Homo sapiens: one gene and its partner. The protein of the gene in region 2 purifies or fractionates together with the protein of the main gene of each other region. This does not show direct contact. Each region holds a gene or a part of one and is shown on either strand. Other genes may lie near its edges.

Region 1 (7,430 bases), on a different chromosome or scaffold from region 2:
AGTATGGAACATTTTTGCATTTTTATTGGCCACTTGAACAACTTTATGAACTTTGTATTCAATTCCTTTGTCCATTTTCCTACTGGAATGTATACTGGTTTGTAAAAATTCTTTATAACTTAGATACTAACTCTAACTACACTATCTAATTGAGTAGTCACTGTTTACTGAGCACTTAAAACGTGGTTAGTCTGAACTGTGATGTGCTGAAAGTGTAAAATACTCACTGGGTTTTAAAGACAGTACAAAAAGATGATGTAAAATACTTCAATAATTTTGATATTGATTACATGTTGAAATATTTTGAATATACTTAATAAAATAGTATTAAATTTTATATATTTTATTATTAAAATATATAAATTTCGTTATTAAAATTAATTCTAGGATATATTAAAATTAATTCATCTTTAATTTTACTTTTTTTAATGTGGCTATCAGACAACTCAAAATTACAAACAGGGCTCTCATATTTCTTTTAGACAGTTTCTATTTTGCCTTTAAAGGCATTCCTCATTTTTAAGTATTCAAGCAATCCCTCAAGGTTTCCTCCTCTCCTTATGCTTTATAAGCTTTTCCCAGCCACAGGCATTTTAGAAGCATAAACTAAACCTTACTTCTAGACAAATAAAAACAACTGTTTTTAGATTTTCTTTCTCCAAAAGTTCTTCAAATAGTCTTCTCACATGCATCCAATTTAAATAGTACTCTTTTTCTAAATGATTTTTAAATTTTGCCATAATAATGGTTGCCCTTTTAAGAAATGCTTCATTACTGAAACTAAATTTTCACAAAGTTATTTTTAAAAACCTACTAAGCATTTTTAAGTGTAAAAAAAATTTTAATTTTTTGTAGTAATAAACATTCCAAACAACTTTGCAAAGTCATTTTGACCACTAAGGTAGGTAATAATTATCTGTGTTTCACAGACAGATGAGACAAAGAATACATAATTTTCAACATAATGACAGCTACACAGAAGAGGGATTACAAATTACACTGTTTCTTCTCCTTTTTGCCAACACTTAAAGGGCAGTTTAGACTAAATTTAACAGCCACTGTAATTTCAGTGTAAAATGCCAAAATTGCTTGGTCAATAGAAACAATTGTGTTAGAAACTTACTTGGGGATTCTGGAGTACAGTATAAACGTATGATTCATTTTTCTTTTTCTTTTCTTTTTTTTTTTTTGAGACAGGTCTCACTCTGTCACCCAGGCTGGAGTGCACTGGCATGCTCAAGGCTCACTGCAGCCTCAATTTCCTGGGCTCAAGCGATCCTCCCACCTCAGCCTCCTGAGTACAGGCTAGGATTACAGGCGCGCGTCACCAAACCAGGCTAATTTTTTGTAGAGAGGCAGTTTTGCCATGTTGCCCGGGCTGGTCTTGGAACTCCTGGGCTGAAGCGATCCACCCACCTCAGCGTCCTAAGGTTTACAATCTTCCTGAGGATTAGCAGCATGAGCCACTGCACCCAGCCGATGATTCATTCTGTCCATAAGGGAACCTGGCAGTATATTGCCAATATGGAAAAACTCAACAGTTACACTTTTCTATCACTACCAAAAAAGCCCTGGGAATAGTGCTGTTAAAATTTATCCGTTTGAAATTCTAAGATTCAGCTTTACATTTATTGCAAATAAAAGATACGAATATATTCTAATTTATATCCACAGCATAGTTACTATAGCTTATATTACATAAAATCTCGAATGACTGCAACTTCCGACTTCTTTCAGGAGGTCACGAACATGTTACAGGTTTTTTCAAACCTATGTTTTTACAGACAGCTCACTATGTTGCCAAGGCTAGCCTAGAACTATTGGGCTCAAAAGATCTGCCTGCCTCAGTCTCCCGAGTAGCTGGACTACAGGAGCGCACCACCACACCTGGCTTCGAACATGAATGTTTCGGTAAATACTCTCTGCATCCCAAGAATGGAGGGATTAGGTTAAGGGTGGACTTAGTTCTGTCTTCTCCCTCAGAGATCCTATCAGTTCTCAGTGTCAAGCAATGTGTGTCAAGCTACGGCAAAAACGAAGGTAAGCCTGATTAGTTCAATGTTATTTTGGAAACTCTCAAACCATTTAAATTTGAGTCAGAAAAGAATGTTGAGAGAGACGAAAATTCTCTTCAACCACCTTTTTTTCTGGGTTACCACTACAACTGCCACCTTTTCACCAAAAAGACTGCTCAGCCGAACTGAAGAGTTTCTTTGTTTTTCGGACCCAAACTGGGTTCATTCAATGATTGTCGGATACTTTCGTACTTCTTCCAAAAGATCCGTAGTGAGTAGCACCCCTCCTTCCTTTTAGAAAATTTAAGAAAATAAGTTGGGAGAGTAAGAAAAAGAAGGCCAAGAAAATCTCAACCAAGTGCTAAATGAAGGTGCGCTGGAAAGCTCCAAAGACCCTGGAACTTTGCGGAGTCCGCAATTTCCAACCGCGGAGGTGAGTAACCGCGGGACACCGCGATGCGCACGTAACATTTTGTTTGGTACAAAGCGGTAGGCTTCAGAGGTGCAATCCGGCCCGCGAGGTGCCCACAAGTTCCCGCGGGGGCCATGCTAGGGCTGCAGAAGGCATCAGAGTCAGAGACCTGTCAGGACCCCCGCGGGCTGCGCAGGCTGAACTGGAAAGGCGGAGGCCAGAAAGGAAGGTTCTGAGGTTGGCGAAAGGCAAGTGGGCGAATTGCCCCAGGCGAGGCGCCGAGCCCAGCCTGGCCCTCCAGTTCGGCTTCTACGGAGCCAGCGGCCAGCGCGGGACACTCACCCTGGCGGTCGCTGGGATTACAGGCCGCCGCCCTGCATCGCAGACGGAGCCGGCACAGGGAGGACCAGCTACATCTGTGGGCCGCGGCGGCGGCCAAGCCGGGTAACATCCTGGTGGGGCAGAGGCCCCTACTCGGACACCGCCTTCTGCCTCCGCGCCGCCACCGGTACCAACTGACTCCATAGACTGGACATCAGCGAACACCGATGGCTTCGCCGCCACAAGCTGCCTGGGTGACCCGGAAACGGCAACGTCATTTAGCGACGCCTGCCGTGGAGGTAGCGGAAGTGACGTAACACGTTGAGCACCAATAGGGAGGCCTTCCTTCCCGGGGACCCAGACTCCCAAAGTGGGGAGGGCGTGGCTGCAGGGGAAGTTTGGTGTCTGCCGTCTTCTTTTGCACCTGTACTTTTGCGCTTGGTTGGAAATCACGTAAACTGTTTACATCTTGTTCAGCCAGGAAAGCTGTCCTTTGGGAGTTCTACTTATTCCTTTTTTTCTGGACTCGAAACCGGGGCCGTGGTTTCGGAAATGGGAGGAAAGATGGGAAGGATGGACGCAGGTTTTCTGAGCCTCTCTACCTAGAGCCTGCCAGGATAAACCCAAATTAGAACCAACATGTCCAGTACTCTCCGAACGTCTGCCACGTACATCGTTCTCCTTGTTAACACCAGTGTGTATCCAGTATCATAAAGGCAAGTACACACTTCGGAATCAGCTACTTGCCCTACTAATCTGTGAACCTCAGATTTTTGCCTGCAATATAAGAGGTTTTATGTTCATGACAAGTTAGGGTAAACGGAGGTATGCAGACTTCGAAACATTTTGGTCCCAGGGAGAAAGAAACCTGAACAGTATCCACGTTAACTGTTTCTCTCTGCCATGCTCATTCAGCTCTTAACTCAAACTCAAGAGAGGCCTTCCTTGACCACCCTAGCTATGGTAGTCCTGGTCATTCTCTACCCGGCTGTCCTATATACTTTTCTTCAAAACGCTTATCACTATTTGAGATTTTTTTTTCTATTTTGTGTCCTAGAATAGAAAATAAGCATCATGATGCTGGAATCTTGTCTATTTTGTACATGGCTGTATAAAGCCGCTAAAACAATGCCTGGCAAAAATAAATTGAATGGAATGTATGGTGGTTTGTTTTAAAGTTAATCTGAGTCGCTTATCTATATTACTGCAAAATAACTATCTCGGGGAAATTTAGTATGTCCTTAATTTTTAAAAAAATCAACAAGTCTCTTATACTAATTGAGATAAGTATAACCAAATGAGGAAAGAGATTATCGTTAAGAATGGTAAGCAAATTTAATTTCCTATGACAAACATAACTTAAAATATTCAGTGGACAAACATTAAAAAATGATGTCCCATAAATGTAGGCTCAATATTACTAAAAAATCTGAATATTACTGGAAAGTTACTTTCCCTTTCTTGTAATAGATTTTAATAGAAATTCAACTTTATGAAGTAAAAATACATAAAGGCTTACCTCTTATTTTATGGTAACTATGCAAACATCTATTAACTTTTATGGATAATTCTTTTTGAACAAAACTAATCTCATATTTTGGATTCTTAAAATGGCTTTGGTTTCAACTCGTTTTAGGCAAGCCTGATCAAAACTTCTCAGGTTTTATTTTTAATTTGTGCGATAGGATTATTATTTTTATTTTGTTTAGCTGTACTAATCATTTTTAGAAGAAAATGTTCCTTTCTTGATAAAACTTTTAAAAAAAATACATTTTGTGCAGAGTTCTTAATTTCCATAACAGCCCACCTGATGTGTAAAATATGTTGGTGCACAGTAAAATTTCACAGTGTGTGCTTTCCTGTCCTTCTTTTTCCTGGTATAGTTGGGGTGTAACTTGACTTAGACACTACTAATTGTTATAAACCTCCAGTACCCTTGATTTGCCAAATAAGTTTGAAGAACAAAGTGTATCATTTTCTGTTACCTTAACTCTCACAATGCTGTATCACATAATAAAGCCTCAACAGACTTGGATTAAAATAACTCTGCAGTTGTCTTGGTATTTATACCTACATATCATGATATACTTATCCTTTTGGAAAGTCTTTGAAACTTCCCCAAGTGCTAAAACTTAAGATAATGTCAGTTTTAGAGTTCCTTAGGGGAATTTCCTTTGACCCTAAATCCCATCCTTACCAAGAGACTTTGTTTTTATGCTCCATTTGAGACACATTCAGCGTTGCCTACCTATACATAACAGGTAAGATTCTAGTATCATAGGGCTTATTTTCTATTGGAAGAGGCAGCAAATTTATAAATAAATATATTGATAATTTAAAACTAATAGCAGCAGTAGTAATATTAATCATTTACTAATTGCCAGGCCCTCTGTGTACACTGTCTCATTCATAATACCTTAAATAAGTTATAGGTAGACGAAGAAACCAAGGCACAAAGATCTTGATCTTAAACACCACTCTTTCTAAGTCAATGGGTACTTGCCTTTGGAAGAAAATGTGATGTCTTCTCAAAAGACTTGAATGATAATATGGTGTTCCTATTTTTTTTTTCCTGGAATGTAGGTTAAGAGAGAATTTCCCCAGATATTTTTTACTCATGTGATCAACATGGTATAAAATTGTCCAAGTTTCATGAGGATACATGATATAAATAGATGCCTAAATATAGGGAACTATTAAGTCAGATAGATAGAAACAGAAGTAGGAAAGGAGTGAAGTGTCATTTGATTATTACCATACACCATAATTCCTGCAAGGTTTTCCATTAACTCTGAAGAAGTTCCAACATCTTTCAGAAATTTGCTTGTGCAATTGAGCTAACTACTATTGCTTGGTTTCATCCTGTCTATAGCTTTGGGAAAATAACTCTGATCTTGAGACAAACTTGACTGGTTATCTGGAAAACTGACTTAGATAATCCATTACAAAATAAAGTAAGTGGCTCTATCATGAGGCTTACCAAAAACACAAATTTAATTTTGAACACAGACATACTTGTTGTCATCACGTTTTGGCGATTTTTTTTTTCTTTGCCTCTAGGAGTGGGGGAGGAGGGAGCTTGCCCACCTGAACACTTCAATAAGAAAATGGCCCAGCCTGGCCAACATGGCAAAACTTTTTCTCTACTAAAAATACAAAAATTAACTGAGAGTGGTGGTGCACACCTGTAATCCCAGCTACTCGGGAGGCTGAGGAATAAGAATCACTTGAACCCAGAAAGTGGGGGTTGCAGCGAAACGAGATTATACCACTGCACTACAACCTGGGCAACAAAGTGAGACTCTGTCTTGAAAAAAAAAGAAGCAAGAAAGAAAATGGCTTATAGCCAGGTGCTAGTGGCTCATGCCTGTAATGCCAGCACTTTGGGAGGTTAAGGCAAGAGGCCAGAAGTTCAAGACCAGCCTGGGCAACACGATAAGATCCCATCTGTACCAAAAAAAAACAAACAGAAAACAAAACTGGCTTATACATGGGTAAAAAGAATTACCTGGTCACACCCCCTCTCCTGTACAACAATGGTCAGAAGCAATAAGGGTCTGCACAGACACATTTGGCCTGTAAAGGCAAACATGCAAAAGAAATGAAACATGCACTTGATGTGGTTTCTGACCAGGTCTGACCAGGTTGCTAATCCTCGTCTCCATTTTTCAGAGAGGTGAAAGGTTTTTTCTACAGTTCACTTAGCAAGAATGTCACAGAAGATGGAATCAGACTCAGGTCCTCTAACTCCAAATCAGTTTACATGGTTGAGTGAGCATTGCAGAGGAGGAGAGAAGGAAGGAGTGGCTTGTTCTTACAGGTTTTCCCTCTGACATTATCCTATGAAATTACTTGTGGGATTTTTTTTGTCACAATTATCTTGTCAAATAGCCATTTAGTAGTCCACTACCATTAAACTTACGTTCACTCTTTGCCACTTCCATCCAAGAAAAGGAGAATGATTTCTCCAATGATAACTGTATTCCTGGATCATAGCTCTCTTATTCAACACTTCTTAGCTTCTCCAATAAAAGCTCCTTCTCTGCAATTTACCTGGTATGGTGGAGAAAAAATTACACATACACACACTTTTCCTTAGAGGGTAGTGAACAAGATTCATATTACAGCTGGAATAATTGAGTTATTAAATACTCCTGGAGGCAAGAGACTGACTGTTTGATAACCTTTATCCTTGAGAAGAATTAAGCTGAGACAGAGCATGGAGGTGTAATATTTTTAGAGAGGGCAGCATTTGTGAAGAGTCAATTCCTTCCCCAAAGCCACAGGTGGGGGCAGCAAGAGAAAGTCTTACTAGGTTTTTTAAAATTTAACTTTTTATTGAAGTATAATACACACAAGACATATATTAAGGGCATAGCTCTAACAATTATCACTAGTGAACAAAAACTGTGTAGCCAGTACCCCGCTATAGAGAGGATGCACCTGACAGCAGTAACAACCATATCCTGAGAACGACCCTGTGATCTAAAACGAATGTGTGCTCAGAATCCCAAACTAAGGAAACAGGAGCGACTAACCCTGAGTTTCACTCCTTATCTATGAAGGACGTCTGAACCCCCAGCCCATCCCTTACAACACAGGCAATATAGGGGATCAAGGTCCTTTGCTTTGGGTTAAATGGAGGTTGCTAGGTGGAGTGTGCTAAATGAAAATGCTATATA
Region 2 (7,022 bases):
CAGGGTTGATTATTTATTAAATGGAAAACTATCCGATTTAACTAAATTTAAACCCAAAGGATCAATGAGCCCTTTTATTTTTCTATATATGTTAGCCTTTTTTGTTTTTAAATGGAGTGCTTAACTGAATGCCAAAAAGCAGTGTTAGAAATAGCTTTTTAGGATGAAGCCCTAAAAATGTCCTCATTTTTCACAGCTGCTTCTTTTTTCTTACTTTGGGACTTTCAGGTTACGTAAAAGCTCTGAGTAATTGTTTTCCAAAATAATTTGCCTTTCAAGCTTCAATACTAGGTGGAGATCCTGTTCTTAAGTGGGGTGGGGTGTGTGGGGCAGAGAATGCTAGTAGAGTTTACCTAAAAAAAGTTAAGCATGTGGGGGATGTGTCCATAGCTAATAGAATAGATCCTGCTTTACCCATTATTGGATTTAACAATATAATTTAAATCATGGCCGGGCATGGTGGCTCACGCCTGTAATCCCAGCACTTTGGTAGGCTGAGGCGGGCGGATCACAATGTCAGGAGATCGAGACCATCCTGGCTAACGCGGTGAAACCCCGTCTCTACTAAAAATACAAAAAAATTAGCCGGGCGTGGTGGCGAGTGCCTGTAGTCCCAGCTGCTGGGAAGGCTGAGATAGGAGAATGGCGTGAACCTGGGAGGCGGAGCTTGCAGTGAGCTGAGATTGCGCCACTGCACTCCCGCCTGGGCGACAGAGTGAGACTCCATCTCAAAAAAAAAAAAAAAATTTAAATCACGTGGGGAGAGTCTGTTTTAGCCCTTCAGAAAGGGATGTATGGGTTTTTAAATTTTTATTTATTTTAATTTGTTTGATATAGAGTGTTGCTCTATCACCTAGGCTAGAGTGCAGTGGCGCAGTCATAGCTCACTGCAGCCTTGTTGCCCTGGGCTCAAGGGATCCTCCCGCCTCAGCCTCCTGAGTAGCTGGGACCACCAAACCCCGCTAATTTTTTAAGTTTTTTGTGGAGAATGGAGGTCTGTCTTTGTTGCCCAAGCTGGTCTCTCAGTCCTGGCATCAAGCGATCCTGCCTTGGCCTCTCAAAGTTCTAGTTCTGTTTTATAAAAGACTTTTTGGAATACAACCAGTTTGTAATTTGGCTTCCAGAAGACATATGATCAAATCCTTGAAGGTGGTGATCTCCTTGACTTGGATTTGCTGTTGGTGGTCATCTTATTCACAGTTAGGAAACAAAGCCTAGCACTCATGTAGTCAAATCCATGCCCAGCAGTGAACAAAACGAATTGCTTATCATGAAGCACTGTTGTGGATGGGACAGGTAATTACCTCTGGGGAAGGAGTACATAGACCTTTCATTGGGTAAATACTTAGGAGTGGAATTACTGTGTTATATGGTAGGTTTGTGTTTAACTTGATAAGAAACTGCTTAAACCGTCTTCCAAAGTGATTGTATCATTTTATACTTGCACTTTCAGTATTCAGTTAAGGCTAGCTTTAGTTTTTGAAGAGGTGGCTTATAATTTTTTCTTTTTTGAGACAGGGTCTCACTCTGTCTCCGAGGCTAGTGCCACTGCATCTGGCCCTAAGTTCTTGATAATAGTGCATTAGATGGTTGTTCTAATCTATGTTTTTACATAGATAGATAGATAGATAGATAGATAGATAGATAGATAGATAGATATTTTTTTTTTTGAGACGGAGTCTTGCTCTGTCGCCCAGGCTGGAATGCAGTGGCACGATCTTGGCTCACTGCAACCTCCCTGGGTTCAAGCTATTCTCCTCCTTCAGCATTCCAAGTAGCTGGGACTACAGGGGTGTGCCACCACGCCTGGCTAATTTTTTGTATTTTAGTAGAGACAGGGTTTCACCATGTTGGCCAGGCTGGTCTTGAACTCCTGGCCTCAAGTGATCTGCCTGCCTCAGCCTCCCAAAGTGCTGGGATTACAGGTGTGAGCCACCGCACCTGGCCTTGTTTTCTGATATATTAAATTTGAATATTAGTCTTGTAAGACTTATTAAATATCCACGTAGTTTTGATTAAATGTTCATACTTACCAGACATATTTAGGTGTAGAGATCCATTTTTTTCTTGTTGTAGAAATTAAGGCTGGGCACCGTGGCTCATGCCTGTTATCCCAGCACTTTGGGAGGCCGAGGCAGGCAGATCATGAGGTCAAGAGTTCGAGACCAGCCTGACTAACATGGTGAAACTTTGTGTCTACTAAAGATACAAAAAATTAGCCTGACATGGTGGCGCATGCCTGTAATCCCAGCTACTTGGGAGGCTAAGGCAGGAGAATCACTTGAACCCGGGAGGTGGAGGTTGCAGTGAGCCGAAATCGTGCCATTGCACTCCAGCCTGGGCGACAGGGTGAGACTCTGTCTCAAAAAAAAAAAAAAAGAAATTAAAACGTGTTCACTTCTAGTCCATTTATGTACATGTTCCACTTCATTCTGGGCTTGGATTATGTAGGTAATTTAGGTCTCTGGGAAGATCTTTTCTGCTTCGTTTTTTTGCTACTCTTCCTCCTGCCAGTTACTGCATTAAAGATATATAGGATATTACTAATGTTTAAATTTCAGTGTTCTTAGAACAACAATGTTGAGAGGTTTCTGGGTGAAGTTTTTAAAAATATATATATATGTATGTTAAGGCTGGGCATGGTGGCTCACACCTGTAATTCTAGTATTTTGGGAGTGGTAGGATTGCTTGAGGCTAGGAGTTTAAGACCACCCTGGGCAACATATCAAGACCCCCATCTCTAAAAGTAAATAAATAAAAATATGTTAAGCCTTAAACAACTGGAAGTTACACCACACTTATCTAATACAGGTAGTAGGAAATGTGATTTGAGATAGGTTTCATTTCTTTAAGTTATGATTTCTATAAATAGACAACTAAGACGTTTTTAGATAAGGGTTAGTTTATAGCTACCATTTGTTTAATACTTACCAGTGCATAGTGTTAACCTACCTGTTTTCACATTTAATCTTCATAATCTGCTAAGGGGGGTAGCGTCCCCATTTTACAGATAAGGAAAATAAACTTAAGTTAATTTTCCAGGGTCAAACAGAGAGAGCGAAGAGCCTAGAGGTATCTGAGTGCTAGGTTGTGCTGCATTCAATACCCAAAGATAAAATTTTCTGCCTCCGCCTATCCCCCTACCTGTTCCAGAGGCTGTTCAGAAGGAATTCAGATTTCCAAACTCAATTCAGTGTCCATTTGACAAGAAGAAAGAAAAAATGGGGCTGGGTGCAGTGGCTCGCGTCTGTAATCCCAGCACTTTGGGAGGCTGAGGTGGGCAGATCACTGGAGGTCAGGAGTTCGAGACCAGCCTGGGCAATGTGGTGAAATCCCGTCTCTACTCAAAATACAAAACTTAGCCAAGCTTAGTGGCGCTCGCCTGTAGTCTCAGCTACTCAGAAGGCTGAGGCAGGAGAATCACTTGAATCCAGGAGGCAGAGGTTGCAGTGAGCTGAGATTGTTCCACTGCATTTCAGCCTGGGTGACAGAGTGAGACTCGATCTCAAAAAAAAAAAAAAAAAATGGAAATGCTTTTCATACAGTACTCTATGTAAACATCATTTCTTTTTTTCTTTGAGACAGAGTCTTGCTGTGTCGCCCAGGCTGGAGTACAATGGCATCATCTCACCTCACCTCAACCTCCGCCTCCTGGGTTCGAGTGATTCTCCTGCCTCAGTCTCTCGCGTAGCTGAGATTACAGGCGCCCGTCATCACGCCCAGCTAATTTTTGTATTTTTAGTAGAGACGGAGTTTCACAATGTTGATCAGGCTGGTCACAAACTCCTGAACTCAGGTGATCCACCAGTCTCAGCCTCCCAAAGTGCTGGCATTACAGGTGTGAGCCACTGCGCCCAGCCCAAAATATTCCTAGTAAAACAGTATTATTTTGCATTAGGTGTAGATTAGAGTGTACGTTCCCTTAGGGGATTTATCAGAATATTTTGGGAAGGGGCTGTAGTTTGATAAAGCAATTTGTATGTGTAATTTGTCAGGATGTGTAATTTATTTTGGAATATAATAACATGAGAATTTTTTTTTTTTTTTTTTTTTTTTTTTTTTGAGACAGAGTCTCGCTCTGTTGCCCAGGCTGGAGTGCAGTGGCGTGATCTCTGCTCACTGCAAGCTCCGCCTCCTGGGTTCACGCCATTCTCCTGCCTCAGCCTCCCAACTAGGTGGGACCACAGGCGCCCGCCACCACACCTGGCTAATTTTTTGTATTTTTAGTAGAGACGGGGTTTCACCGTGTTAGCCAGGATGGTTTCGATATCCTGACCTGGTGATCTGCCCATCTCGGCCTCCCAAAGTGCTGGGATTACAGGCGTGAGCCACCAAGCCCGGCCCGAGATTTTTTTTTTTTTAATGTGTGAATGAAGTATATAAGTTTATTTAAGAACTTGAATGGTGCCAGGGCTGGTGGCTCACACCTGTAATCCCAGCACTTTGGGAGCCAAGGGAGGAAGGAATGCTTGAGCCCAAAGAATTTGAGGCTGCAGTGAGCTGTGATTGCGCCACTACACTCCAGCCTAGGCAACAACAGAGCGAGAGCCTGTCTCAAAAAAAAGAACTTGAATGGACATTAGTATTGCTCTTAGTTTTTTTTTTTTGTTGCTTTTTTGGTTTTTTTTGTTGTTGTTGTTTATTGTCTTTTTTTTTTTTTTTGAGGCGGAGTCTCGCTCTGTCGCCAGGCTGGAGTGCAGTGGCACAATCTTGGCTCACTGCAACCTCCGCCTCCTGGGTTCAAGCAATTCCCCTGCTTCATCCTCCCGAGTTGCTGGGACTACAGGCACGCGCCACCACACCCAGCTAATTTTTATACTTTTAGTAGAGATGGGGTTTCACCATGTTGGCCAGGATGGCCTTGATCTCTTGACCTCTTGATCCACCCGCCTCAGCCTCCCAAAGTGCTGGGATTACAGGCGTGAGCCACTGCGCCCGGCCTAGTCTTAGTTTTTTAGTTTTTGTTTTTGTTTTTGTTTTTGTTTGTTTGTTTGTTTTTTGAGTTGGAGTCTTGCTCTGTCGCCCAGGCTGGAGTGCAGTGGTGTGATCTCAGCTCACTGCAACCTCCGCCGTCCAGGTTCACGCCATTCTCCTGCCTCAGCCTCCCGAGTAGCTGGGACTACAGCCGCCCGCCACCACACCTGGCTAATTTTTTGTATTTTTAGTAGAGACGGGGTTTCACCGTGTTAGCCAGGATGGTCTTGATCTCCTGACCTCGTGATCCGCCTGCCTCGGCCTCCCAAAGTGCTGGGATTACAGGCGTGAGCCACTGCGCCTGGCCTATTCTTAGTTTTTAGAAGTGGGGTGTCGCTGTGTTGCCCAGGCTGGAATGCAATGGCTATCTTATCAGGTTCTGTCATATTGTTAGCACCCTACGACCTTGAACTCCTGGGCTCGGGTAATCTTCCTGCCTCAGCCTCTGAGTAGCTGGCACTACAGGTGTGTGCCCCACTATGCCCACCTGGGACATTTTTACTTAGGAATTAATACTCTGGTTATGTGTAAAAATTCAAACAATATGGAAGTATATAAAGTAGTTTTTACGTCCCATGATAATCACTGTTAATTTAAAATCAGAGGGAACCACTGTTAATAATTTCAAGCGAGTATTATACATTAGGGAGAAAAGTATAAACATGCCTATGTAATACTTTTTGTTCTACTTGATTTTATTTGCTTAATTTAAAATATATCTTTCTGTATCAATGTATACGATGTATTTCATTTGACCTGTTCAATATTTTTGCTGCCACAACATATATAGTCAACTCAAAATTTAATGCATTGAACAAAATATATCAAGTACTATTTGTGTACATTGAAGTTATGGTTCTTTCACATTATAGCTATCCAGTCAGTTCGCTGCTATTCCCATGGGTCACAGGAGACAGATGAGGAGTTTGATGCTCGCTGGGTAACATACTTCAACAAGCCAGATATAGATGCCTGGGAATTGCGTAAAGGTAATTGGAACATAAACATATTTGTCTATTTTGGTGTGTAAATATGAACTGCTTCTGCTCCTTTATTGAGAGCAACTGTTTCGAAAACATGCGTTGTTTAAACTGGTTACTTCATGCAACTTGCAGTTAGGAAAGTTTATGGCTACCTATAAAGCAGGATTTTAAGGCAGGCACTATTGACATTTTGGGCCAGATAATTCTTTGTTGTAGGGGACTGTCCTTTACACTGTAGGGTGTTTAGCATCACCTTTGGCCTCTACCTGCTAGGAGCCAGTATGCACACATTCGTATCATGACAACCAAAAATGTTTCTAGGCATTACCCAGTGTCTCCTGAGGGATGAAGTCACCCTTAATTGAAAACCACTGCTATAGCAATAAGGCTAGATGAGCAAAAGGTAACAGTTTTGTACATTTCAAACAATTTACATAGCACGGGCGCGGTGGCTCACGCCTGTAATCCCAGCACTTTAGGAGGCCAGGGTGGGCGGATCACGAGGTCAGGAGATCAAGACCATTCTGGCTAACATGGTGAAACCCCGTCTCTACTAAAAATACAAAAAAATTAGCCGGACGTGGTGGCGGGCGCCTGTAGTCACAGCTACTCGGGAGGCTGAGGCAGGAGAATGGCGTGAACCCGGGAGGCAGAGCTTGCAGTGAGCCGAGATCGCGCCACTGCACTCCAGCCTGGGCAACAGAGTGAGACTCTGTCTCAGAAAAAAAAAAAAGAATTTACACAAAGCAGTCATTTGGTTCCCTTCCCCTTTGGGTGATGGTTTGGGTTTTTTGTTATTTTTGCATTGTTTTGCCATGAATAAGTATCTAAGTAAGTTAGAACTTGTCTTTCCTAAATTTGCAGATGCACACTTAACATGAAAAAATAGAATTAGGTGTAGGGTAATTTATCTCATACCAAAAATTCAATCTCAATGACTATCGTATTCACTGGTATCCTTTGTTTAAATATTTTAAAGTAATAAAAGCAAGAAACCTAAGTGCTTTAAACTTCTCTGCAGAAATGTAATGATTCCCTTTTGCTACAACCAATAGAATTCTTACT

What was found. Proteins that work in one complex are often made in the same cells at the same time.
Region 1: the proteins of COX5A (region 2) and SLC30A9 purify together in Homo sapiens (affinity purification with mass spectrometry; 3 studies listed by BioGRID and IntAct, with this or other methods). This does not show direct contact.

The regions. Positions count from the first base shown.
Region 1 is NC_000004.12:41,986,100-41,993,529, reverse strand, and holds the start of SLC30A9 (proton-coupled zinc antiporter SLC30A9, mitochondrial), read right to left. Parts: upstream 3,001-7,430; 5' UTR 2,879-3,000; coding exon 2,770-2,878; intron 1-2,769. UniProt on the Homo sapiens protein: Mitochondrial proton-coupled zinc ion antiporter mediating the export of zinc from the mitochondria and involved in zinc homeostasis, zinc mobilization as well as mitochondrial morphology and health.
Region 2 is NC_000015.10:74,928,057-74,935,078, reverse strand, and holds part of COX5A (cytochrome c oxidase subunit 5A, mitochondrial precursor), read left to right. Parts: intron 1-5,846; coding exon 5,847-5,963; intron 5,964-7,022. UniProt on the Homo sapiens protein: Component of the cytochrome c oxidase, the last enzyme in the mitochondrial electron transport chain which drives oxidative phosphorylation.